3 linked regions of the Homo sapiens genome follow. The protein of the gene in region 1 interacts with the protein of each later gene in a pairwise test. Each region holds a gene or a part of one and is shown in the gene's direction. Other genes may lie near its edges.

Evidence for each region.
Region 2: the proteins of CEP170 (region 1) and KIF2A interact in binary tests that used the Homo sapiens proteins (3 or more experiments, as listed by UniProt).
Region 3: the proteins of CEP170 (region 1) and DISC1 interact in binary tests that used the Homo sapiens proteins (3 or more experiments, as listed by UniProt).

What each region holds. Positions count from the first base shown.
Region 1 is NC_000001.11:243,188,732-243,196,714, reverse strand, and holds part of CEP170 (centrosomal protein of 170 kDa), read left to right. Parts: intron 1-5,220; coding exon 5,221-5,697; intron 5,698-7,983.
Region 2 is NC_000005.10:62,301,340-62,309,796, forward strand, and holds the start of KIF2A (kinesin-like protein KIF2A), read left to right. Parts: upstream 1-4,866; 5' UTR 4,867-5,133; coding exon 5,134-5,197; intron 5,198-6,969; exon of another isoform or gene 6,970-7,172; intron 7,173-8,457. UniProt on the Homo sapiens protein: Plus end-directed microtubule-dependent motor required for normal brain development. May regulate microtubule dynamics during axonal growth. Required for normal progression through mitosis. Required for normal congress of chromosomes at the metaphase plate.
Region 3 is NC_000001.11:231,692,398-231,700,380, forward strand, and holds part of DISC1 (disrupted in schizophrenia 1 protein), read left to right. Parts: intron 1-1,428; coding exon 1,429-2,408; intron 2,409-7,983. UniProt on the Homo sapiens protein: Involved in the regulation of multiple aspects of embryonic and adult neurogenesis. Required for neural progenitor proliferation in the ventrical/subventrical zone during embryonic brain development and in the adult dentate gyrus of the hippocampus.

The sequences.
Region 1 (7,983 bases):
TAGTACTGAGAGGGGGAAAGATTTACCAATTAGGTGATTAAGAAAACATAGCTGAATATAATTATCACCAAACTCTGAAAATCAGTATGATAGTAATTTTTATCTTGCCGTTAAAATTTTAGCCCTCCCCTGTCACACACAAAACAGCTTTTGAAATCTGAAGCGCGTAACTTCTAACATACAGTGAAGTGTATATGTAATTTTTGTACAGAAGGCACAACCATGATTTACAGTAATAGCTAACACTTCAGTAGGGTTTACTTTATCCAACATTCTTCTGAGTGCTTTGTATGCATTTATTTAATCATCACAGCAATACCTAAAGGTACAGTTACGGTGATTTTGTAGATAAAGAAACTGAGGCATACTGAAATTAATTTACTTGTCAAAGTCACCCAACTACAAATAATGGAGCTGGGATTTGAACTTAGATTGCCTGACTCCTGAGTCCACGCTCTTAACCATAAGAAGTTTTAATATTTCAGCCATCATTACTCTTGTAAACACAATCACTCTAAAAGGATATACTTCATAGGGTACAAAGATTTAAACAAATACTCCAAAATCAAATAGCCATAAAAATTGATCCCTCCTAGCTCAGCATAATAAAATAAATTTCAAATGTGAAGCATCCAGCAATACTTTCATCTATATGAATGTAACTGAATTCTCAGCTTGTGTACTCTTTCTGCTAGATGACCAAAAGCCGTCTCATGATCTTGGGGTTCTTTTTGAGTAATAATTCAGTGATTTATGTCTTGTGTCAAATTCCTTAAAGTGCCCTGTCAGATACAGCTGATTAGTAATAGCCTTAAGAGACTCTCACTTGCTTTCTTATGTTAGTATGAGGATATTACTGTTTCAGATTTATCATTTGCAGCTTTTTAAAATATAGGATGAGGAAAATAGTTTACTGTCTTGTAATAATTTATGAAGCCAGCAGAAATTGTAGAATCAGATTTGAAATGTATATCAAGTGTTCTTTAATGTGGTCATTTTGAAATTAAGGTATTTTTAAAAACTTAAACTTTTTTTTTAAGTTTCAAATTGTGGAATATACGTGATTAGTTTAATAATTTATCCTGTAGCATACTCTTAGTGAAAGCAAAAAGTGATTTGCTTCTTCGTTATTAATTTTTAGAGTTGCATTCCAGAAAGGATAATAGAGTGTTTGCTACCTAGTAATTTTTAACGTTCCTCTCTGTGGGTTCATATATATCCAGAAACTCCCGAAGACTTGCCATATAGCTTAAAAAGCCCTGGTTTAAGCAAATACTTACTTTAGAGCAATTTCGTTCTCCAGAAATTGTGTGACTATTTTTAATCGTATTAAGACGTAAAGTTTGTCCTCAATTTATTTACAGCTATGCTTTTCTACCTCCTAACTTGGTCTCAACAATTAATTTAGGTTATAATTAAAGGCCTTTAACTGTTGCACACATTTTGAAATGGCATGTGCAACTGGGAATCATAGATTTTTGGCTCTCTCATGTTGATTTTTAATCCAGCGAAACTAAATTTGGAAATTTTCAAGTCGTAGCTCCTTTTAAGCAAAAGGAGCTTCCCAGTCTTCTTAATTTGACATGCTTGAACAGACTAGGTTAGATGGATGTCTTAAGCAGAATGAGCTGTTATAATTATAGTCCTTGTCATCTCAAATAAGTTTAATATTTCATTGAATTTAGTACAGAAGAATGAAAAGAACATTTATTCTGGATGAAGTATAAGTATCCCTTATAACATATTGTGTTAAGGTAACACAGTCATAAAATACCTTAAGAACATAAGCAGATTATCACCAATTGCTTTTCTGATTGAGATATATGGAATTAATTATGGCATAATCAATCATTAAATAATTTTTTAAAATCTAGTAATTGAGATTAATAATATAATATTAGTCTAAACAAGTATTTACTCTATTATTTAGTTTCATTTGGTATAACAAAATGAGTTTTGAAGATAGATGAATGTTAAATTTCTAAATTCCAGAATATGTTCTGTTAGTGTTCTGAGGGAGGAAAGGTGTTTTATTTTTCTGTGTTGATTAGAAGACCCCTTATAGTTTTCTATTAGGTACTTCTCAAGTGTAGTTGGACCACACTTCATCTGTTTTTATCATCTTTAGGGAAATGAATCCTTCCACATAATGAATTTTCCAGATGATTGAACTTTACTTTTACAGTTGATAGTTTTTTTGAAGTTTAACCATTTCCTAAGTTTCTATTAAATTAATTACCCATATTACCACCTTCTTAAGCAGAGAAGTTTCAGTATAATTTAAAACTTTTTCTTATGACTCAAAATCATCAATCATCAATATCAGTATTACTATTATATATATCAATAGCAATAGCAATATTGATATAATCAATAATCAAATATATTAGTAATATAATAATACTGATACTGCCTTACAGTAATGTCCTCAGGAGACTGTAGTATATAAGACTGTTTGCCCTATATACTGAATGGTACTGGACTATCATGTTTTTGGGGCCATTTGTCTGCTCTTGTTTTTCATCTTGTCTCTACCACTTGGTGCAATTTGTCTGTCCTTAATCCTCACTTTTGTACCCTGCCCAAGGTTTGCTACATGTGATCTGAGTAAATAGTAAAAACCTCTCGGTGAAGATCTTAACTGTTAGTAATGTTTATGAATATTCAAGGATAGGCATTGTCATATCTGTCTTGGGTTTTTTAGAGTTGGGTTTTGGTATTAGCTTTTTGTCTTCCTGATTCTCAGCTGTTTTTGAAGGTGGAGGGAGAAGCATTTATTTGTGTACCTGCTTTGTTCTGGGTAACTTACATGATCTCACTTAATACTCATCTCACTAAATCTTCACAACAATCTTATGGGAAGATACTGTTTTCTCACTTTATGATGAGGAAAATGAGGACTACAGACTGATTAGGGATAAGATTTATCTGATTTCAGATCTTGTCTGGGCTTTGCATGAAACCAGGCTGCCTGGTTATGATCATCAGATCATAGTCTGCTGCCTTTCCACTCTATTGTGCTACTTGACCTGGTTAGGTACTTGATTTCTAGATGAATTAGTTATTAACTTGTATAAGTCTCAAGTTTCTAGCTTTGAGTGAATGCGAGTTTGAAGTAGTACTAACATGGGAATGGTGACCTTCAAAACAGGTGACCTTGATAAGTGCTATATCCCTGGCCAGCTTTTTTGTGTTGCTTCATAGCTGAGCCACATCAGTTTTATTTAGCTCTCTGTATAGTGGATCAGTTTTATTTGGCTCTCTGTGTAGTGGTATTAGAAACTACCATCTTGACGTTGTTCTGTCACCTGAAGGATGAGCAAAGCAAAAACAAACTATATGTATATATCTATATGGGGGGAGGGAGAGAGGACAGGTTTATGAACCAGTTGTACTGTATGGACTTGATCAAGTACAGTACATTGTGCATAGTAAAAAAAAATCAATGTCTGAAAAAATAGAAAAATAACATTAATGAACTATTAATATATGAGAAGCAGTTAATACATTTTATTCTAATGGAAATTTTAACTAACATGACTTCAGAGTAAACACTCACAAGTCCAGCTGAACATTTTATTTTTAAGAAAAAGACAAATTAACTCTTTAATCAAACATTTTTTTAAACTTAGGTCATGTCATATAAATGTATGATTATTTCTCTGATAATGTAGAGTTTTTCCAATACTTTTCTTTCATGTTCAGTGATAGGAAAGCTGAGTAGATTTTAAAAGGGATAATTTTTCACAGTGAAAATTACAATATATTCTTTCATATTATATGTTCTCTTTGCCTTGTGTTTAGATTTTTTTGACAATTTATTATTATTATATTTATTGTGGAAATGGAGCTTGTTGTCTTCCGTGCCCTATCCCACACATTTGATTATGAAAGAGAGATGTTACTATATCATTCTTCTGTAACCTAAAAGCAGTCAGGTTTTATATTATTTCATATTCAGACTGCTGTCAAGAAACCAATTATAGTACCTGACAGATCCCACTAAAATTTAATTTTTGAAAAGATGTTTCAAAAGACCAAACGCTTCACTTAATTAGAAAATGTTTGGAAACAACCTAGTCTCCCTGTATTGCCTTGTTTTCCTAATAAATTGTCTGTAAGTGATTTTTCTATTAATCTGTTTAAAAGCAGAATTTATTTTTGAGCTTTAGGGAAATATGTCTCATTTCAACTTGCTCTTCATTTTGATAATGGACATGCTTTGCTTCTTCAACAACAGGACAATAGCATCTTTAATTTTTTTATTTTGCATTTGCGTACCGAAAACGTTTTAGTTGTCATTTTTATTTATGTATTTTATTCATAAATGCATCTGTTTCTATACTTTTGTATTAGATTCTGAGGCAACAGAAGAATAGTGATAGTGTTCCAGAGTTGCTTGCTCCTTCTGCCAACTCATGTTAATCTGAGGTTTACAATTCAGCTTTCCTCCAAGGAATTTTGACACTTTTGCATATTCTGCTGTATGGAAATGTAAACTTCCAGAGTTATTGTCTGGAAACTGAATTTCCTATTTTAACCTTATTTCGTTCACACTGCTGCTTGGATTGCAAACCACATGTTTTAGTCTTTATAAAATGTTTGTATCTTCTTGCAAGGATCGCACTTCAGCAATATCTTTGTCATTCTGAAAGTAATGTTTCCGAATGTAATGGTGAAGAATGGTAAGTGGAATCATTACTTCCAGAAGATCACTTACATATTTACTTCATGTTTGTATTCTCATTTGAGCACCTATTCTCCTTTGGAGCACTACATGTGTTCATATATATTTCAGATATCTCATCTTGGCGACTTGAGAAGGGAGTTCATGGTTTTTCTGTCACTTTTTATATATACATTGAACATGCATCTCCATCTACATTTTATTTTAATTCTTTTGGACCTTGATGAATTCTAGATCCAGGTTGGAAAAAATATGGACCTAGCCATGCAAGATCCATTTCTTAACTGCTTTGCTCTCATTTGCCATTGCTGCTGCTTATCTTCCATCCCCTATTGGTAATCAAATCGCATGTTTATAATCAAGATTCTTTCTTCTCTGTGACATTTGTTCTGTGATATAAATGCCATTGGTTTTCATCCAGACTGTGATCTGCCTTCTGGTTCTCACGGAGTAGTACACATGGCCATTACCAGACTCCCTCAAGTGCCAGAAGCAATCAAATATTTTGAATTTTCTCTTATTTTTCTCATTAGGGTGCGGCATAGATGCCAAGCAAGTTGAGGAACAATCTGCAGCTGCAAATGAAGAAGTACTTTTTCCTTTCTGTAGGGAACCAAGTTATTTTGAAATCCCTACAAAAGAATTCCAGCAACCATCACAAATAACAGAAAGCACTATTCATGAAATCCCAACAAAAGACACGCCAAGTTCCCATATAACAGGTGCAGGGCATGCTTCATTTACCATTGAATTTGATGACAGTACCCCAGGGAAGGTAACTATTAGAGACCATGTGACAAAGTTTACTTCTGATCAGCGCCACAAGTCCAAGAAGTCTTCTCCTGGAACTCAAGACTTGCTGGGGATTCAAACAGGAATGATGGCACCCGAAAACAAAGTTGCTGACTGGCTAGCACAAAACAACCCTCCTCAAATGCTATGGGAAAGAACAGAAGAGGATTCTAAAAGCATTAAAAGTGATGTTCCAGTGTACTTGAAAAGGTTGAAAGGTAAAGTGATTTGATCATTCAGAACTTCCTACTTTACGATAAAGAAAATCTGGTCTTCATTTACTAGACTACTAGTAGATACTTACATGGTAGAAAACATTCTGCTTTTTTCAAAGGTTATATTTAGTCTTAAAACTAAACAGGAAGCTACACTGCCCATGTCCAATTTCCTCATTCAAAATAGTCTTCCTTCATTTTCTTGACAAAACCAGATTGGTTTTATGAGCTTATATTTATGCTATAAAACATGTTTCTTTTTCTTCTAGAAATATAAGATTTATTAAGTTTACCAGTAGAGTTCCCTAGAAGATGAGTTCCATCATTTTCTTGATTTAAGGAAAAGATATATTCAATTCTGTTCTCTATTGAGATCAATATCTAGATTCTGAAAGAAATTTTAAGTCATTTGGTCTGAGCCAAAAGTTCTACTTTGGTAATGCAGTCACATCATTGATGGAGCGCTTCAAAGTATTCTCAGTGGTTACTCATAAAACAAAGATTTTTGGTTTAGAAATATTTGGTAGGATCTATTAATCCAGTTTTAAAATTTTTTTTAATATTAGGACTTCATGAAAATTAGAGTTGAATGTTCATTTTTGAAATAGTTATATATACTTTATTTGTGTAGAACTTAGCCAAAATTAGTACAATTTGTATGTTTGTACACTGATGTATCAGCTGATCAGTTTTTTCTCATTGGTTTTGCCAATTAAATTTATTTTAGAATTGAGTATAGATTTATGTTACCCTATCTTTTATTTAATAAGCTATCTATAAGGAAAACGATTTTGAACAAATTGTGATTACACGTTTAGCTGACCATTCTGTTACTATATTAGGAGTTTTTGTACTCCTAACACTTCATCTAGTACTTGAGCATGTGATAGGTACTAATTTGAAAACAATGGGCGATTTCTCTGTCAATGACAAGACTGTCCCTGATTTAATCTGTACCTTATGTCCTGGCATTCTGATCAAGTAATGAAGAAATAGTATTTGTATACTTATTTCTGATTTGCTTCTAAGACATTTCCGGACAGTGAGATGATGTGATTACCTAATTATTTGTTGGAGCCTATCACAATATTTAATTATAGTTATCAGCAGTTACCTGGCATATGTATTTTTGAGACATGATTGTGACATTTTACTTCTAGACAATACGTAATTGAGACATTTTGTTTCTGTAGGTTAACACTCACAAACACATAGGCTGTTTATATGAATTGGATAAATAATATTGATCTCCTAGTACAGTATAAGAGGTAGCTGAACCTTGAGAATTTAGAAATAACTTAGACTTTTTAAAACCACTCTTAATAAACAAAAACTGAGGTAAAATATCCTTTTAAAAGGTAATCATTTTAAAAATACCTTTATTAAACCCATTTATAACTTAGTCATTATAACTATTTTCTATATTGACTATTATTATTACTACTATTTTTTTTTTTTTTTTTTGGAGACAGAGTCTCGCTTTGTCACTCAGGCTGGAGTGCAGTGGCGCGATCTCGGCTCACTGCAAGCTCCGCCTCCTGGGTTCACGCGATTCTCCTGCCTCAGCCTCCCGAGTAGCTGGAACTACAGGCGCCCACCACCACACCCGGCTAATTTTTTTTATTTTTAGTAGAGACGGGGTTTCACCGTGTTAGCCAGGATGGTCTTGATCTCCTGACCTCGTGATCCACCCACCTTAGCCTCCCAAAGTGCTGGGGTTACAGGCGTGAGCCACCGCGCCTGGCCTGTATCGACTATTATTTTTAAGCCATTATTTTAAAACGTTCTGTCCTCACAAGCCCATTTGTGGGCCTAATTCCAAATAGAGGGATTAATGTCCACATGTATACTATATCTGTATTTTAATGATTAGATCTTTTAAGCCCTTACTAGAAATTATGTAATCATATTACTGTTGTCCTTCAAAGTTGATTTATAGGTAGACATACATTCCAGTATGGTGCCAGTGTGAGAACTCTTCTTTTGGATTTGCCTTCAGACCATTTTACAAGCCATTGAAGATAATGTTTTTGTGAATATAACTCATTTTTTGATCCAAGATAGACTCATTTTACTTTTCTGGACATGTGTATAAATGACATGTGACTTTCTCCAAAAGTCAGAGCTTCCATCATTAGATAACAATTTTCCATGATTTAGGATATAAAAAGTATATAGCCAGACTCTAAATAAATGTAATTATAGCAAATAATAAAAATTTTACAAAAATTAGGTTTTCAGCAACTGTTTAGATCAAAGAATTGAAAGTAGGCAAAACAAAACTAAAAC
Region 2 (8,457 bases), on another chromosome or scaffold:
AGCCATGAATTCCTGGGTTCGAGCCATCTTCCTGCCTCAGCCTCCAGAGCAGCTGGAACTAGAGGCACGCACCACCTCGCTCAGCTAATTTTTTTTTTTTTTGCAGGAACAAGGTTTTTACTATGTTGCCCAGGCTTAAAATTTTTTGTAAAATATATTTTAAAAAAGAATTATCACCTGACCTGGAGTGAAAATCACCTGGAGTGAATGTTAAAAAAGTGCATATTCCTACACTTCAAACTAGATCTACTGAATCACAATCTCTGATGATAGGACCCAAGAGTCTGCATAACAATCATCTCATATGACTTTTATGCCCAATAAAGATTGAGAATTATTGGATTAATATGATACTTAACAGTGGCCACTTCCAGAAAATGGGACTTGGAGGGCAACGAGGGCTTTCCCTTTCATTTTACTTTATACACTTTTTGTTTTAAAATTTTATTTTTTATTTTTTGAGACAGGGTTTCACTCTATCACCCAGGCTGTAGTGTAATGGTGGGATCACAGCTCACTGCAGCCTCAAACTCCTGGGTTCAAAAAACTCTCCCGCCTCAGCCTCCAAAGGACTAGGATTACAGGCATGAGCCACCGTGCCAGCCTAAAATTTTTATAAACATTTATTACATATACACTAATCTATATCTACTAGAGATTTTTGAGGTTCAAATGATTGAAACATTAAATATTGATTGTCTGGGTCATATTAATGAGAAAATCTATTACCAATTGAGCTTATTCAGAAAGAGAAAAGATGAGCCAGGCACAGTGGCTCATGCCTCTAATCCCAGAACTTTGGGAGGCTGAGGTGGGCGGATCACTTGAGGTCGGGAGTTCAAGACCAGCTTGGCCAACATGGTAAAACCCCGTCGTCTACTAAAAATACAAAACTTAGCTGGGTGTGGTGGCACATGCCTGCAATCCCAGCTACTCAGATGGCTGAGGCGTGAGAATCTCGATTCTTGTGAATTGCTTAAACCTAGAAGGCAGAGGTTGCAGTGAGCCGAGATCATGCCACTGCACTCCAGCCTGGGCGACAGTGAGGCTCCATCTCAAAAAAAGAAAAAAAACAAACAAACAGAGAGAAAAGACTACCTAAGGCTATAAATTTGGCAACATATAACAAATTATTAAACTTTTCCTTCATTCATTCAACAAATATTTGCTGAGCAGCTGTGTTCCAGGTACCCTTCTATGTGCCAAAGATAGAGTGAAGAATTTTAGGCAAGATTTCTACCCTTGAGGAGGTTACTTTAGAGTTGGGGAGGAAAGACAGATTGAGAAAAGTGGGGGTAAGGTGAGGGACAAGGAAAGGCTTTTTCCAGGAGTGATTTTTGACTGAGACCTGGAAGATGAATCAGTCACATGAAAAGATGAGCAAGAGCAGCCATCCTGATCAGAGATCTTGACTGATTTAAGGGACAGAAAGGAGTTCTGCGAAAATGGAGCAGAGTGAGAGGAGAGCAGCACCAGACGAGGCTGCCGAGGAAGCCAGAGCTAGATCGCGTACAGTTTTGTAAAGAATTCAGATTTTATTCTGGGAAGCCAGCGATAGGTATTAAGAAAAAAATGATATTATCTCTTTTGCATGATCTAAGTGATCAGCAGCCTTTCACCTGGTATTTTCACTTAGCTGAATGTGAATACAAATGTCTGGTTTGAAACTCCTGAGCTCAACGGATCTTCCTATCTAGGCCTCCCAAAATGCTGGGATTACAGGCATGAGCCACAGCACCTGGCCTGGGTTATATTTTATAGGATGGTTTACTTTTATAAAACAAATTACAGGCCAGGCGCGTTGGCTCACGCCTGTAATCCCAGTGCTCTGGGGGGCTGAGGCGGGTGGATCATCTGGGGTCGGAAGTTTGAGACCAGCCTGACCAACATGGTGAAACCCCATCTCTACTAAAAATACAGAAATTAGCCGGGTGTAGTGGCAGGTGCCTGTAATCCCAGCTACTCGGGAGGCTGAGGCAGGAGAATTGCTTGAACCCGGGAGGCAGAGGTTGCAGTGAGCCGAGATTGCACCATTGCACTCCAGCCTGGGCGACAGAGTGAGATTTCATCTCAAAAAAAAAAAATTATAAATATCAAGGCACTATCACATTTTATTTCATTTGTCCTCACAAAAACTTTCTGTGATTGAGAGAATGTAAGTTATTATTCCAGGTTGATCAAAGAGGTAACTGAGATACTGAGCAGTTTAAGAAGTTAACTCATTGAACAAATGTCTGAGTGCAGACTATATAATCCTAATAAAAACAGTAGTTCTTAGTAGGGTATATATCTTAGTGATTAATTAGTAGTTACTAATTCAGGATCTTATTAGTAGTAGTTCTAGTTAGGATTATATATCTTGTTAATGTCTCAGCCAGAGTTAGAATATTTGATCCAGGATGTTGATGGAAACATAGCCACATTGCATGTATTTATGGCTGCTCTTTAGGAAGCCACTAGCATACAAAGCCCATAATGAAAGTCTTGGTAAATACATATGCTGATGTGTACCAAAAAAAGTAAGCCTTTTGGGTATGTCTTATAAAGGAAAGGTTTTGTGTTTGTTAAGTGTTATGTCATACATTTTTATGGAGCAAAACAATGTACATATTTTAAAAATACCTTTTATATGGATTAAAGGTTAAGATTAACCATATAAACCACAGAGTGTAAGGTATGTGTCAGCAACCACGATACAAAATAATATTTTATTGGCTGGACGTGTTGGCTCACGTAATCTCAACACTTTGGGAGGCTGAGGCGGGAGGATCATGAGGTCAGGAGATCGAGACCATCCTGGCTAACACGGTGAAACCTCGTCTCTATTTTAAAAATACAAAAAATTAGCTGGGCGTAGTGGCACACGCCTGTAGTCCCAACTACTTGGGAGGCTGAGGCAGGAGAATAACTTGAACCTGGGAGGTGGAGGTGGCAGTGAGCTGAGATCATGCCACTGCACTCTAGCCTAGGCACGACAGAGTTAGACTTCGTCTCTAATAATAATAATAATAATATTTTATGAAACAATGTTAACTTTGAGCTGTATAGCTTGATTTCTTTGCATTCTTTATAAAGTATAAATAAAATATAAATAGATGTTTTATACCTCAGTTGCAGAGACATCAGAAAATGAATTCTAGACAGGAGCTTGAAGAGTTCAGATAAAACTCCCAAAATTATAGAAAAAATAAAAACTAAACCCTGATTTGGTCAAATTTCACTTGAAACCGGGGTACTCAAGTGTGTCATTTCTGGAATGTAAAAGAAGTTATTTTCCACATTGTCTATCCAGTGTGGTTTTTTTTCCATAGAAATTATATGCACTTTAGAATGGATTCAATAGAATTGTTCTTTTGACAGGTATACCTTCAATATGTTCAAGCTACAGATGAAGCCAGTCTTTTAACAGTTTTTTAAGGACCTACATGATTACTTACATTAGATAGAAAACTCTAGGCACACATATATCCACATAAGCATTGATGTATATATCCAGTTTCCAATTTTAAAATTTTAAATTGTATATTTGTAGTTATTGTTACAGGGAGATTATCAATGACTAGGGAAGGCCGGGCGCAGTGGCTCATGCCTGTAATCTCAGCACTCTGGGTGGTGGAGGCGGGTGGATTACCTGAGGTCAGGAGTTTGAGACCAGCCTGGCCAACATGGTGAAACCCCGTCTCTACTAAAAATACAAAAATTAGCCAGGCGTGGTGGCGCGGGCCTGTAATCCCACCTACTCGGAAGGCTGAGGCGTGAGAATCGCTTGAACACAGGAGGCAGAGATTGCAGTGAGCGGAGATCGCGCCACTGCACTCCAGCCTGAGCGACAGAGCAAGACTCCCCCTCAAAAACAAACAAAACAAAACAACAACAACAAAAAACAATGACTAGGGAAAGTAGGCCATGAAAAGTGTTGTTTCCAACCTATCAATTGCCAGTACTACAAGCAGGAGTTAGACGTTTGGAGGTTTTCACACGGTGCTATAAATACAGTTTCCAGGGCCCCGGTACACGTGGCCTTCCTGCTCTGCCAGGATGGAGAGTCTTGCTTTCCACATTGCTGATGTGGTCAGACTAATTAAATTATTGCAAAAAGACACATTCCCTAGTCAACCTTATGTGTCTGCCTTCTTCCCTTGAGTCACAGTTGTTGGCTTTACAGGCCAAGGCAAGTAAGTCTTGAACCCTCAGCAGAAACAGGGCACCAGCATCGGATGCCTCATAACCTGAACAGTTAAGGACGCCCCACCACAGAGCTTCTTTCTGAGTGTGATAAACTATAAGGCAAGACTGTAAAGGGGTGGATCTTCATTTCGATTTAGGGTAGGTGACACCTCAAGGGTGTTTCTTCCCTTCCAGCGTAACTGGATGGGAAACCTACACCAAGTGTGCTTGGGAGGGCTGCTTGGGTCAGCTACCTGTAAGTGGAAATAGGGGGTGCCACCTTCCGATGAAAACCCGGATCCCGTACTGTCAACGGAGGGCCCTTGAATTCACATCCCTCAGCCCGCTAGAAAGCCCCTGAAACCACGTGGCCTTTAACCCATTCCGGCAACAGCGCCAATTCCCGGAAGCGAGAGGGCAAGAAAGCTCGGCGCGACGCTTCCCGCGTCTTCTAGGCCGCGCGCTGAAATCAAACGCGACGCCGGCTAGCTGTGGGCCGGGCCGAGCGCTCAACGCTCCAGCGGCTGGGTAAGCCGCGGCCGCCGCCCACCCCGCTGCAGAGCTGGGCGGGGCCGCCTGGAGGCAGCGGGGAGAGGCCAGCCGAAAAGGAAGAAGAGACGCCGGAGGCGCGCTCTGCGCAGGCGCGCGGCGCCCCGCCTCCCCAGCGTCGGCTCCCCGGCGGGCGGTGCGGGCCCTCCCACTCTACCCCGCGCCGTCTCACGGCCCCGGCCCTAGCTTCACCCCGACTACCCGGCGTGCGCGTCCTCCTGCCGGCCTGCAGGCCCGGGGCCTCCGCCTGCTTCCCCACAGCTGCTCCTTGCGGCCCCGCTTGCGTTCACGCTGTCGCCCGGGCCGGCGCGGCCGCGGGCAACCGCTCCCCCTCCCACACCTACCCCGCCCCCTCCCCGCCTTTTCCGCCCTCCGGTCCCCCTCCCTCGGCCCGCTGCTGCTGCTCCAGATGAGGTGATGGCAACGGCCAACTTCGGCAAGATCCAGATCGGGATTTACGTGGAGATCAAGCGCAGCGATGGTGAGCCGCGCTGCCAGCCCCGCTGGCCCGCTCGGCCCCGTGTTCGGGTGTGCACGGAGGGGACGCGGGCGCCGGCCGCCTCATTGATTGCTTCGCCGGGCTGTGGGGGTGGGAAGGCGGCGGCCGCGGCGCTTTTGTGTGTGGCGTGTGTGCCAGTGAGGCCGGCTTGGGGTCCGCCCGGGCGCTGCTGCAGTTCTCCGGATCGGGCCGCGGGGGAGGGAAGCCGGGTGGGGAAAGGGCCCGGGTGTCGAGGGTCGCGTCTCCGGGGGTCTCTGGGCGAGGGCCGCTCGCTCCTCCTCCCGCAATCTCCAGCCCCCCCCCGGGGACACCAGCCCGGGAGGGAGCGGGCTTCGTTAGGGATGACCCTGCCTCGCGCTTCCCCTTGGTCTTTGCATTTTACCGGCTTGGCCTCTGACGGGGATGGGGATGGGGGTGGGGGAGCGGGAAGACCAGCGATTTCACATTTAGAGAACCGACTGCTGGTCGGAGGCCGAGATGGGGGGAAAGAGCCAGTTCCGTCGCCTTAAACTGCCGTCTGGTTGTCAGGCCTCCCCGGTTTCGTCGTCGACCATGCTGCTTTCTTTTTTGCCACTTCTTGGGAGAAAAATGTGGAGAATATCGCGCTGAGCCATGAATAAGGGTGGGGGAGCAATGGGAAGAAATATTCGATGGGCTTCTCCAAGGTGATGAGACTGTAAAGGGAATGATAGGGGATGGGCAGAGTCAATGCGAGGCACTGCTGAGAGAGTGGGGGTGGGCGACCGGATGTTGATATTTTCACACCCTCGGGAGAGGTAACTGAGAAAAGTGTAAGGCGAGGTGAAGACACATGCTTCATTTTTTTTTTTAAGAGCCTTAGGCTTATGTATCTTTCTCTAGGTTTCTCTTGGGGAAAATGGTTTATGACACTAGCTTGGGGTGTGGAGTGAGATACGCCAGCCAGACTGGAAATAATTCATATTGTAAAGGAATAAATGCACGGAGGGAGATAAGTAAAATTATTTTCTTTCGGTACCAATATTGAAAGAACGAGAGATGTGTGATAATCTCGAGTTGAGCAGTGTTCCTGACTCCATCTCTCATACCGATTCCTTTTTTTTTTTTTTTGAGACGGATTTTCACCCAGGCTGGAGTGCAGTGGTGCGATCTCGGCCCACTGCAACCTCCGCCTCCCGTGTTGAAGCTATTCTTGTGCCTCAGCCTCCTGAGTAGCTGGGATTACAGGCGTTGTCACCACACCCAGCTAATTTTTTGTATTTTTAGTAGAGACGGGGTTTCACCATGTTGACAAGGCTGGTCTCGAACTCCTGACCTCAAGTGATCCACCTGCCTCGGCCTCCCAATGTGCTGGGATTACAGGCGTGAGCCATCGCGCCTGGCCTCGATTCCTTTTATGAGTGCCTTATTTATTAACCTTTAGCCTAGCCTAGTCAGTAGTAACTTGGCTGTCACGTCCACGTGCCCCTTGGATTCTGCCAGGTTTGACCAAGTTACGTGAAGCTAGATTGATTTTCATGTTGTGTGTATGATATATTGGAAGACCCTATATAGCTAATGATTTTTTCCTCCGTTATATTTGAAGTAATTTGTGGTAACAACTGAAACCATCGTTATCCTGTATATGAAAAGATAAATTATACCGCTTAGAGCTTTAGAAATTACCAATAACACTAATGGGAAAGAGATACCTTCTTTACTTGGGTTGAGGTTTCTTTTATATTTTCTCTTCAGATTACTTTCTTGAAAGAGTGCTGTTAATGTCATTTTTTTAGGTAAATACGAGTTCACAGTATACCAGCAAAAGTAGGATTTACATATTATTTTGAAGATTCTGGGTGCACAGCAACACCTGTCCCTGGTATACACCCAAGGGAGAGGAAATCACCACCTTGTGAAGATATCTGCACTCTCGCGTTCATTGCAGCATTATTCACAGTAGCCAAGATAGGGAAGCAACCTAAATGTCCATCGATGGGTGAGGAATGGCTAAAGAAATTATGTGTGTGTGTATACGTTTATGTGTGTGTATAGACAATGTACAATGGAACATTATTCAGCCTTAAAAAAGGAGATCCTACTGTTTACCACAACATAGATGGACCTGAAGGACGTTATGTTAAATGAGATAAGCCAGACACCAAGGAAAATATTGCATAATCTCACTCATATGTAGAATATTTTTTTAAGGAGCTAAAATACACAGAACGAAACAGTGGTTACTACTGGTGGTGGGGAAGGAGAGGAAATGGGGAGATATAGGTCAAGGATACAAAATAGCAGATATGTAGGATGAACAAGTTTAGAGATACAGGGGGACCAATGTTAGTAAAATTGTATTAGAGATTTTTGTTAAATAAGTGGATTTTAGCAGCTCTTGTTAAAGTATGTGAAATGATAGCTATATTAATCTGCTTCACCATTTTGCTGTCTATATTCCATAGCATCATGTTGTAAACCTCAGTTGCACAATGAAATTTATTTTTTAAAAAATTAGGGTGCAATAAAATGTGTAAATTCTTTACACTCATAAGTATGAGTATAGGTGTTAACTTTGAAATCGTATCAGAAAAAGTATATGATATTTGATTTATACATTTTAATTTCTACGGAGCATATTTTATTTAAATTTATTGAACTTGAAGCAATTTTCGTTCTTTTCAGCCTTCACCTTCAGCCTATACCAGAAGTTCCCAGACATACAAGAGCTTTGTGTTCTTACATAAGTGCTACTAACCTAAAGCCACATTTCAAAAGCGGTTTGCCTATAAGAAATTAGGGAAGTCATCACAGTGTGTTATTATCCTAACCTATGGTCATGTATCTTTTTATGTGCCTCAGATGCATGATGGAGTTGGTGGAAGGCAGGAGATTAGTAGAGAACTTCGAAAGAACAGAAGGATCATTTGCATTGGACAGTAGTGTTTCACAATAGAAATTGATGTCTGGGAGAATGCCCCTCAAGCTTTCCCTTTTTCACTTTAAAGAAGCTTGTTTGCTTCCTCTCACTTCCATAACGTCTATATTGGATAAAACACTAGTGGTTATTATAACAAAAATAAACTTTGCAGTTGGAGGAACACTAATATCTGAGACAGTAGAAATGACATGAGTAAAGAAGGGCTGCTTCAGACCATTATTAACTGGTGACTTGATGTTTTTCTTTTGGCTTGCTGATGGCGATCCATGTCCCTATTTCAGACCACACTTTTCCCATCAGTGATACTCTTACACTAATAAACATATCCCAAGGGCAAACAGGT
Region 3 (7,983 bases), about 11 Mb from region 1:
ATGCTCAAGTCAGGAAATAGGGGGCTAGAGGTCATTGTGCTCATTTCCCCAGAGATTATCAATGCCACCCCCACCCCTTTTAGGAGATGGCATGTGCCATGATCGTAGCTCAGTGGGATCCTTAATGCCTAGTGATCTCGGCTTAACAGGACAAAGATTCCAAGCCCATGTCTGTTCTGGGAAGCAAAGCAGGATGTGTGGGCCTGGAGTGAAGTTTGTTCCATTTCTCGCCATAGGCCATGGTATGATTACAGCTGTGCCTAGTGCTGCCTAGTTTTACTTTCATGCCTGATTTGCAATGTGGCAGGGTCCTGAGATGAGAGCTCTGTGTGGGCCAGTAGAGTCAAGAGACTTTGTCCTGGTCACTTGGCTACTTGCAGGGGGTTCTGGAAAGTCAAGTTCTCTGAATCTCAGTTGCCTTTAATATAAAAGGAAAGCTATAGTTTCGGGTCGGATTGATTCACATGGTTTTGGTCGGGAGTGAATGAAATTAATGTAAATTAAAACACATTATGAGTAGCAAAGTGCTATGCAATCTAAAAATAATAACATTTTAATCACTCTTATCATCATATGTGCCAGGCACTGTTCTAAGCTGTCTACAAATAGTAACTCATTTAGTTGAATGCTCACAACCACCTTATGAGAGAGCTACTGTTAATATCACCACTTTACTGATGGGGAAACTGAGGCACAGAGAGGTTAAGTAACTTGTGGAAGGTCACACAACCAGCAAGTGGTACAATCAGGGTTTGAACCAGTCAATGAGGAGTCAGCATTTGTTATTGTTCCTATTCCTATAGCATAGCTGGGAAGGGAATGCAATGCTGGTTTGGAGAACACATCAAGCAGGCCTCCTGTCATCCACTGAGTGAGATGAGATGATGGCCATACATTGCGGCACAGCCAGCTATCCATGGTCTGCAGCAACAGATCAGTCTTGCAGGGACATGGATAGCTCCGCTAGTGAACATTCACATGTTCAACGAATAGCTAGAGTAAATAGTTGGATCTCATTTAGAGGCATGCTCTGGCATTCCTCTTTCACGTCATTTGCTTTCCAGGCCCACTCCAGGATGAGAGTACTGAGGTGCCATAAAAGACCAACAGGCAAGATGTTGGAGGGTTCAGGAGCTGCCAAGGTTGTGTTCATGCTGACCTGTTGGCATAGCGTACAGCAGTGCCAGCTGCTCTGCTAAACCGAGGAGCTGAGATGCTGTGTTGATTTCTACATGTTCCAGGCAAATACTTCCTGAGGATTGTCAGGATTTACATAATGGATTGGCCCTGGGACCACTGAGCCAGCATCTATCTTTGACAGGTGTACTGAGAGATGACCTTTAAACCTAGGGATGTTCTCCAGATGCAGTTCCAGCTGGGCCAGTAAGATCTGCATGTTTATGGTGCTGTTTTTTCTTTTCTTCCCAGGCAGCCGGGATTGCTTACCACCTGCAGCGTGCTTTCGGAGGCGGCGGCTGGCACGGAGGCCGGGCTACATGAGAAGCTCGACAGGGCCTGGGATCGGGTTCCTTTCCCCAGCAGTGGGCACACTGTTCCGGTTCCCAGGAGGGGTGTCTGGCGAGGAGTCCCACCACTCGGAGTCCAGGGCCAGACAGTGTGGCCTTGACTCGAGAGGCCTCTTGGTCCGGAGCCCTGTTTCCAAGAGTGCAGCAGCCCCTACTGTGACCTCTGTGAGAGGAACCTCGGCGCACTTTGGGATTCAGCTCAGAGGTGGCACCAGATTGCCTGACAGGCTTAGCTGGCCGTGTGGCCCTGGGAGTGCTGGGTGGCAGCAAGAGTTTGCAGCCATGGATAGTTCTGAGACCCTGGACGCCAGCTGGGAGGCAGCCTGCAGCGATGGAGCAAGGCGTGTCCGGGCAGCAGGCTCTCTGCCATCAGCAGAGTTGAGTAGCAACAGCTGCAGCCCTGGCTGTGGCCCTGAGGTCCCCCCAACCCCTCCTGGCTCTCACAGTGCCTTTACCTCAAGCTTTAGCTTTATTCGGCTCTCGCTTGGCTCTGCCGGGGAACGTGGAGAAGCAGAAGGCTGCCCACCATCCAGAGAGGCTGAGTCCCATTGCCAGAGCCCCCAGGAGATGGGAGCCAAAGCTGCCAGCTTGGACGGGCCTCACGAGGACCCGCGATGTCTCTCTCGGCCCTTCAGTCTCTTGGCTACACGGGTCTCTGCAGACTTGGCCCAGGCCGCAAGGAACAGCTCCAGGCCAGAGCGTGACATGCATTCTTTACCAGACATGGACCCTGGCTCCTCCAGTTCTCTGGATCCCTCACTGGCTGGCTGTGGTGGTGATGGGAGCAGCGGCTCAGGGGATGCCCACTCTTGGGACACCCTGCTCAGGAAATGGGAGCCAGTGCTGCGGGACTGCCTGCTGAGAAACCGGAGGCAGATGGAGGTCAGTGTCTCTTCCACCTCTGTGGCCCGAGATTGTCGTGAGCTCAGATTAGCACTGGGCAGACGGCAGGAAACGAGGGGTTCTGGGCTCAACTGACTTCCTCCTGGAAGCTGCAGCAGCTCCTTTTGGAGCCGGCTGCACAGGATGTTGCTGCACTTCTGTCTCTTTGAATTGGACACAGATCTACTCTCCTTTTTGTCTTCTCTGTCACTTAGGTGCTCAGATTTGCTCTCCATTGGGCCGCAGGCTCCTCTGCAGGCCCCGGCTTAGGTGAGACGTGGTTCATGCAGCCCAGCTCTGCTTTGAGACAGGAAACTGGGGGCAGGGGAGATTGAGCTGGGTGATGTTTGGAAGGACTTGAGAGATACAAAAATGGGGATGCCCTCTATCAGGGCGATCCTGCTCTTCATCCGCTTCACTCATTCCCTTCCATCCTGCTGCAGTGGCTGCTGCCTTCCACAGGGTCGGGAGACTTCGCTTCTGGTCATTGAACCTCTTTGGCTCTCAGTTTCCGTATTTAGAGATAACACCAACTCATAGGATTGTTCTAAGGCTCAAATGAGAATGTAGCTGCTTTGGAAATAAGTACAAACTGGAGACATCTAAGGCCCAGCCTTATGATGATGCTGTCCATCCAGTTATCTGAGAGGTGGGTATAGCCGGAAGTAGGTAGGGTTCCTCTACCCACAAAAGTTCCCAGAGAAGCCCAGGTAGAGATGCTCTGTGGCTCATCTGTTGCCAGACTGTATTTTAATCCTGGTGTGTGTGTGCATATGTGTTTGTGTGTGTATGTGTGTGCATGTAGGTGTGCCTGTGTGTGCGTGTGTGTGTGTGCATGTTTGTGCTGTGTGTTCATGTGTGTGTGTGCATGCATGTGCGAGTGTATTTGTGTGTGTGCACTCATGTGTTTCTGCGTGTGGTGTGTGGATATGTTCATGTGGGTAGGGAAGTGGAGCACCCACTCATCAGGCATTTGGGAGGAGTAATCTGCAGAAGTTCATGCTCATTCCCCGAAAGAGCATCTCCCATCTGTTCTTTATCTATAGTCTGATGTTTCTAGCCCTGTCCCTGTTTGCCCTGTTTCAGCCCTCAGGGACCTCAGCCCAGCCCTCTGATTTATTATGCAGAGAGGGAGTGAGGTCAGAGCACAGATGCAGGCTTGTATTCTGGGTGATGTGTGGAGTCTTCCAGTTAGTCATTGCCTAAACCAGTGCCCCTTGTCTTTCCCCGAAACCCGTTCTGAAGGGCCTCCAATATTGGTTGATTTGAATGCATAGAATCTATCCAGTTTCTTAGGCCAGAAACCACAACCATCTTCCACACCTCCCTCTCCCTTGTTCCACATCTGGCTGGCCTCCAAGCCCTCTCAGTCCTACTGCTAATCTGTCTCTCATCACCATGGCCGCTGCCCTGGCTCAGATCCTTGTTATCTTTCACCTGGGTTTTGCAAGAGGGTCTACCTTCCTGCGGTGTTTCTCTTCTCCAGTTAATTAAACTAAATGTGATCATATGTGCAAAGTGCTTCAGACAGGGCCTGGCATCTAGCAAGTACCCAGAAATTAACCATTGTCATCATTAGAGAAATAGCTCCAATTTAGAGAGTTTGAGTCAAAAGCAAATGAAGCTCTCCCTTCTGTCCATAGCTCAAATTAAATTCCTATCTTATCTCAAATGGTAGAATCTGGACACACTTTTTCTTTAGTGTAAGTATTGTTGTCTATGGCAGTCCCACAGCTGGGCAGGGAAAAACATGACACTCTCTTCAATTACACTCATGTACTGCATAATGACATTTTGGCCAATGACGGATCACATATATGATGTGACAGTGGTCCTGTGAGATTATCGTACTGTGTTTTTGTTGTACCCTTTCTATGTTCAGATATGTTTAGATACAACAATACCTTACCATTGTGTGACACTTGTCTGCAGTATTCAGTACAGTCACATGCTGCACAGGTTTGTAGCCAAGGAGCAATAGACTATTCCATCTAGCCTAGGTGTGTAATGGGCTACACCATCCAGATTTGTGTAAGCACACTCTACGATGTTCACACAATGATGAAGTCACCTAATAATGCATTTCTCAGAATGCATCCCTGTCATTAAGTAACGCTAGGCTGTACTTGAGTATCTGTTGTGTGACAGCGGAATTAACAGAGTAGTGGGAATGACAGAAATAACACAGTCCAGGGCATAGGACTTACAGGAAGGCAGAGTTTGCCTCAATAGGAGGAAGAACCTCTTGACAGTGGGAATTGTCTGTGATGAGGTGGGCTGGTCAGGGACTTGTTTTCCCATGGTGCTTACACAGAGGCCCCAGACTGCTCACTGGGGTTGCGGCTGAGGCCTTCGGGACAGGGCAGAAGGTCGGTGAAGGATCTCCAAAAAGATCCTTTGAAAGAGTAGGATTTCTAGTGTTTGGGGGCCTTATTGATATTATATTTTAATTCCTTAACCTCCTCTCGCTTCTACTTAAGTAAAAATGAGAATCTCAGGAATTTAAGTTTCAGCTTCTTCTAAAAGATGGTTGATCCTCAGTGTTTGTGGATTCTATATGTGTGAATTCGTCTACTTGCTAAAATTTGTTGTTAACTCCAAAATCAGTACTCACAGCACTTTTATGGTCATTTTTCATTTTTATTTTATTTTTTAAGAGACGGGGTCTCTGTCTTCCAGGCTGGGGTGCAGTGGTGTGATCATAACTCACTGCAACCTTGAACTCCTGGGCTCAAGCGATTCTCTTGCCTCAGCCTCCCTAGTGGCTGGGACTACAGGCGCATGCCACCATGCCTGGCTAATTTTTTTTTTTTTTTTTTTTTGGGTAGAGATGAGGGTCTTGCCACGTTGCCCAAACTGGTCTTGAACTCTTGGCCTCAAATGATCCTCCTGCCTCAGCCTCCAAGGTACTGGGATTACAGGCATGAGCCACCATGCCTGGTGGTAATTTTGAACCTGCACAGAGTGGCAAAATATTTGGGTCACCTGATGTACACGCTTTCTACTTAGGTCAAACAAGTTCAGACCAGATGACATTCTACCTTCTCTCTCATACTACAAACTAGTATCCTTTTTGTGGTCTATTTAATGCCATCTTTTTTTACATTTTTGTGCTCTTTATTGGTGAGTTAACCATTGCAAAAGCTCCCTAAGCATAGTGCTAATGTCATCTAGTGCTCCTAAGCATGAGAAGGCTGTGATGGGCCTGATGGAGAAGATACAGGTGCTCCAGAAACTTTATTCAGGCATGAGTTAGAGTGCTGTTGGCCAGAGTACAATGCTTATGGATCAATAATACATATTAAATAAGATGTTTTTAAACAGAAACACACATAGAACAAGGTCATGTGTTGACCGATGGAGGAAGGTGTTGTGACCAGGGGTTCACAGGAACCTACCCTGTATTTCTCTTAGGAGCAATGCTTCATTATTCCCTAATTCAGTATTCACAGAAACTTTATAGAACATAACTACAGTACTGTGAATAAGGAGAATCGACTGTGAATATTTTATGCTGTTTAGAAATCGCTGCTTAGCGAGATTTCCAGGGGTTGCATGGGACTGAGAAGATGGTAATAAAGGTAGTTGGTGACCAGGCATGCAGAGGAGGGGAAGTGGAGTGGGCCCTGCAAGGTAGGCTCCACCTAAGGCCATGGAAACTGGTGAAAAATGAAGGACTCTGCCTGTAGAGTATTATAGGACGTTCCACAGGCAGGGTTGTGGCACAGTGCAAGACATGGCCACTGGGGCTGTGCCTCCAGCAAAGACGGGTATTCAGACATATCTCAGGGCAGTCCATTCAGGGCCTTATAGAGATCACTGGACGAGGTGGGCATCGTGGGGTGGGCTTTGGCTGTAAATGAATTTTTTTCCTGACCTTGTTTCCTGCATTTCTTCAGCTTCTGTTCTAATAAATGTTTAATGATACCATCATTTGGGTGTGGCGATGGTAATGCTATAGCTTTATGTGGCCCTCAAACCATTCACACAGCCTTTCTTCTGTCCCTAATATATAGGACTAAGTTACTGGTAAACTTTGCAGTTGTAATATAGAACAATTCAAAGACAAAGGGGTTAATATGATTATTCATTCATTCTTTCATTCATTCAGAAAGCATTTATCAATGACAACGAGTACAATGCCTTATCCTAGGCTTTGGAGATTGTATTAGGACAGGCTAGTAACAGGCACTACGTTAGAGGCTCAACACAACAAAATTGTGTTTTTTGCGTATGCTTCATGTTCCACAGAGATTTTTGGGGGGCAAGAACCCAGCCTGCACCATCTGAACATATGATCCCCTTAGTCACAGACTTGAGGAAGAGAATGTTAGGGAGTCCTACAAGAGCGATCAAATGCTTCAGCGTAGAGGTAACCCCATCACTGCCACTCATACCCTGTTCAGCAGAACAAGGAGAGAGGCACTTGTACTCTTTCCATGTGCCCAAAGCAGTGGAAAATCAAGTCAGTGTAAGTACTAGCATCCTATACATGGATGCAAAATAGTTCTTGCCCCCCAGATGCTCAAGGTTGAATGATGTGCACAGATAAAACCAAACAAAGGAAAATGATGGCTATAACCTGGTGCAATAAGTACTCCATTCTTCCAGTGGGTCAGAAAAAAAAACCCAAAAAACAAAAAACAAAACAAACCTTGGCATCATCCTGGTGCATTTTCCTCAGACCCCACCTGTGATGTATTAGCAAATCCTGTTGGCTCTATATTTAACCAGCGGTCTTCTGAATATAACCGGAATCAGATCACATCTCACCATCTTCACCATTGCCACCATCCTCACTATCATCCAAGCTCCTGTCATCTCCTTCCTGAATGTTCCCATAGCCTCTTACCTGGCCTCCCTTCTTCTGCTCTTACTAACAGCAGCCAGAGTGAAACTGTTTAAAACATAAGTCAGATCATGTGCTCCTCTGCCCCAAACTCTCCAGTGGCGCCCCATGAACTTCAGAGTAAAATCAGAACTTTTAAATGGTCTTCATGTCTCTTCTTGACACAGTCCTCATTACCTGTGTGACCTCATTCTCTACAGTTTTCCCTTACATCAATCTGCCCCAGATCCAGTGGCATTCTTGCTCCCTCTTGCTTTTCATTTCACTTTCACTTCTTGCTTTCTTACCAGAAACACTTCTGCCTGAGCCTTTGTACTGGCTCTTCCCTCTGTGGGAATATTTTTCTCCCAGACAGCCTCGTGGTTCACTCCCTTACCACTTTTAAATCTTTGTGTAAATGTCACCATCTCAAGGAGATCAGATTTCAAATTGCAACCTCTACCCTCTACCAGCATCCCTGATCCCCATAACGTGGTTCTCCCTTTTCCTTTTTCATAGCATTAATCACTTGCTAAGGTGCCATAAAACTTACAGTTGACCCTTGAACAACACGGGTTTGAGCTGCAAGGGTCACTTATATGCAGATTCTCTTCCACCTCTGCCACCTCTGAGACAGCAAGAACAACCTCTCTTCCTCCTCCTCCTCAGCCTACTCAAGATGAAGATGATCCACTTTCACTTAATGAATAGGAAATTTATTTTCTGTTTTTTATGATGTTTTTCGTC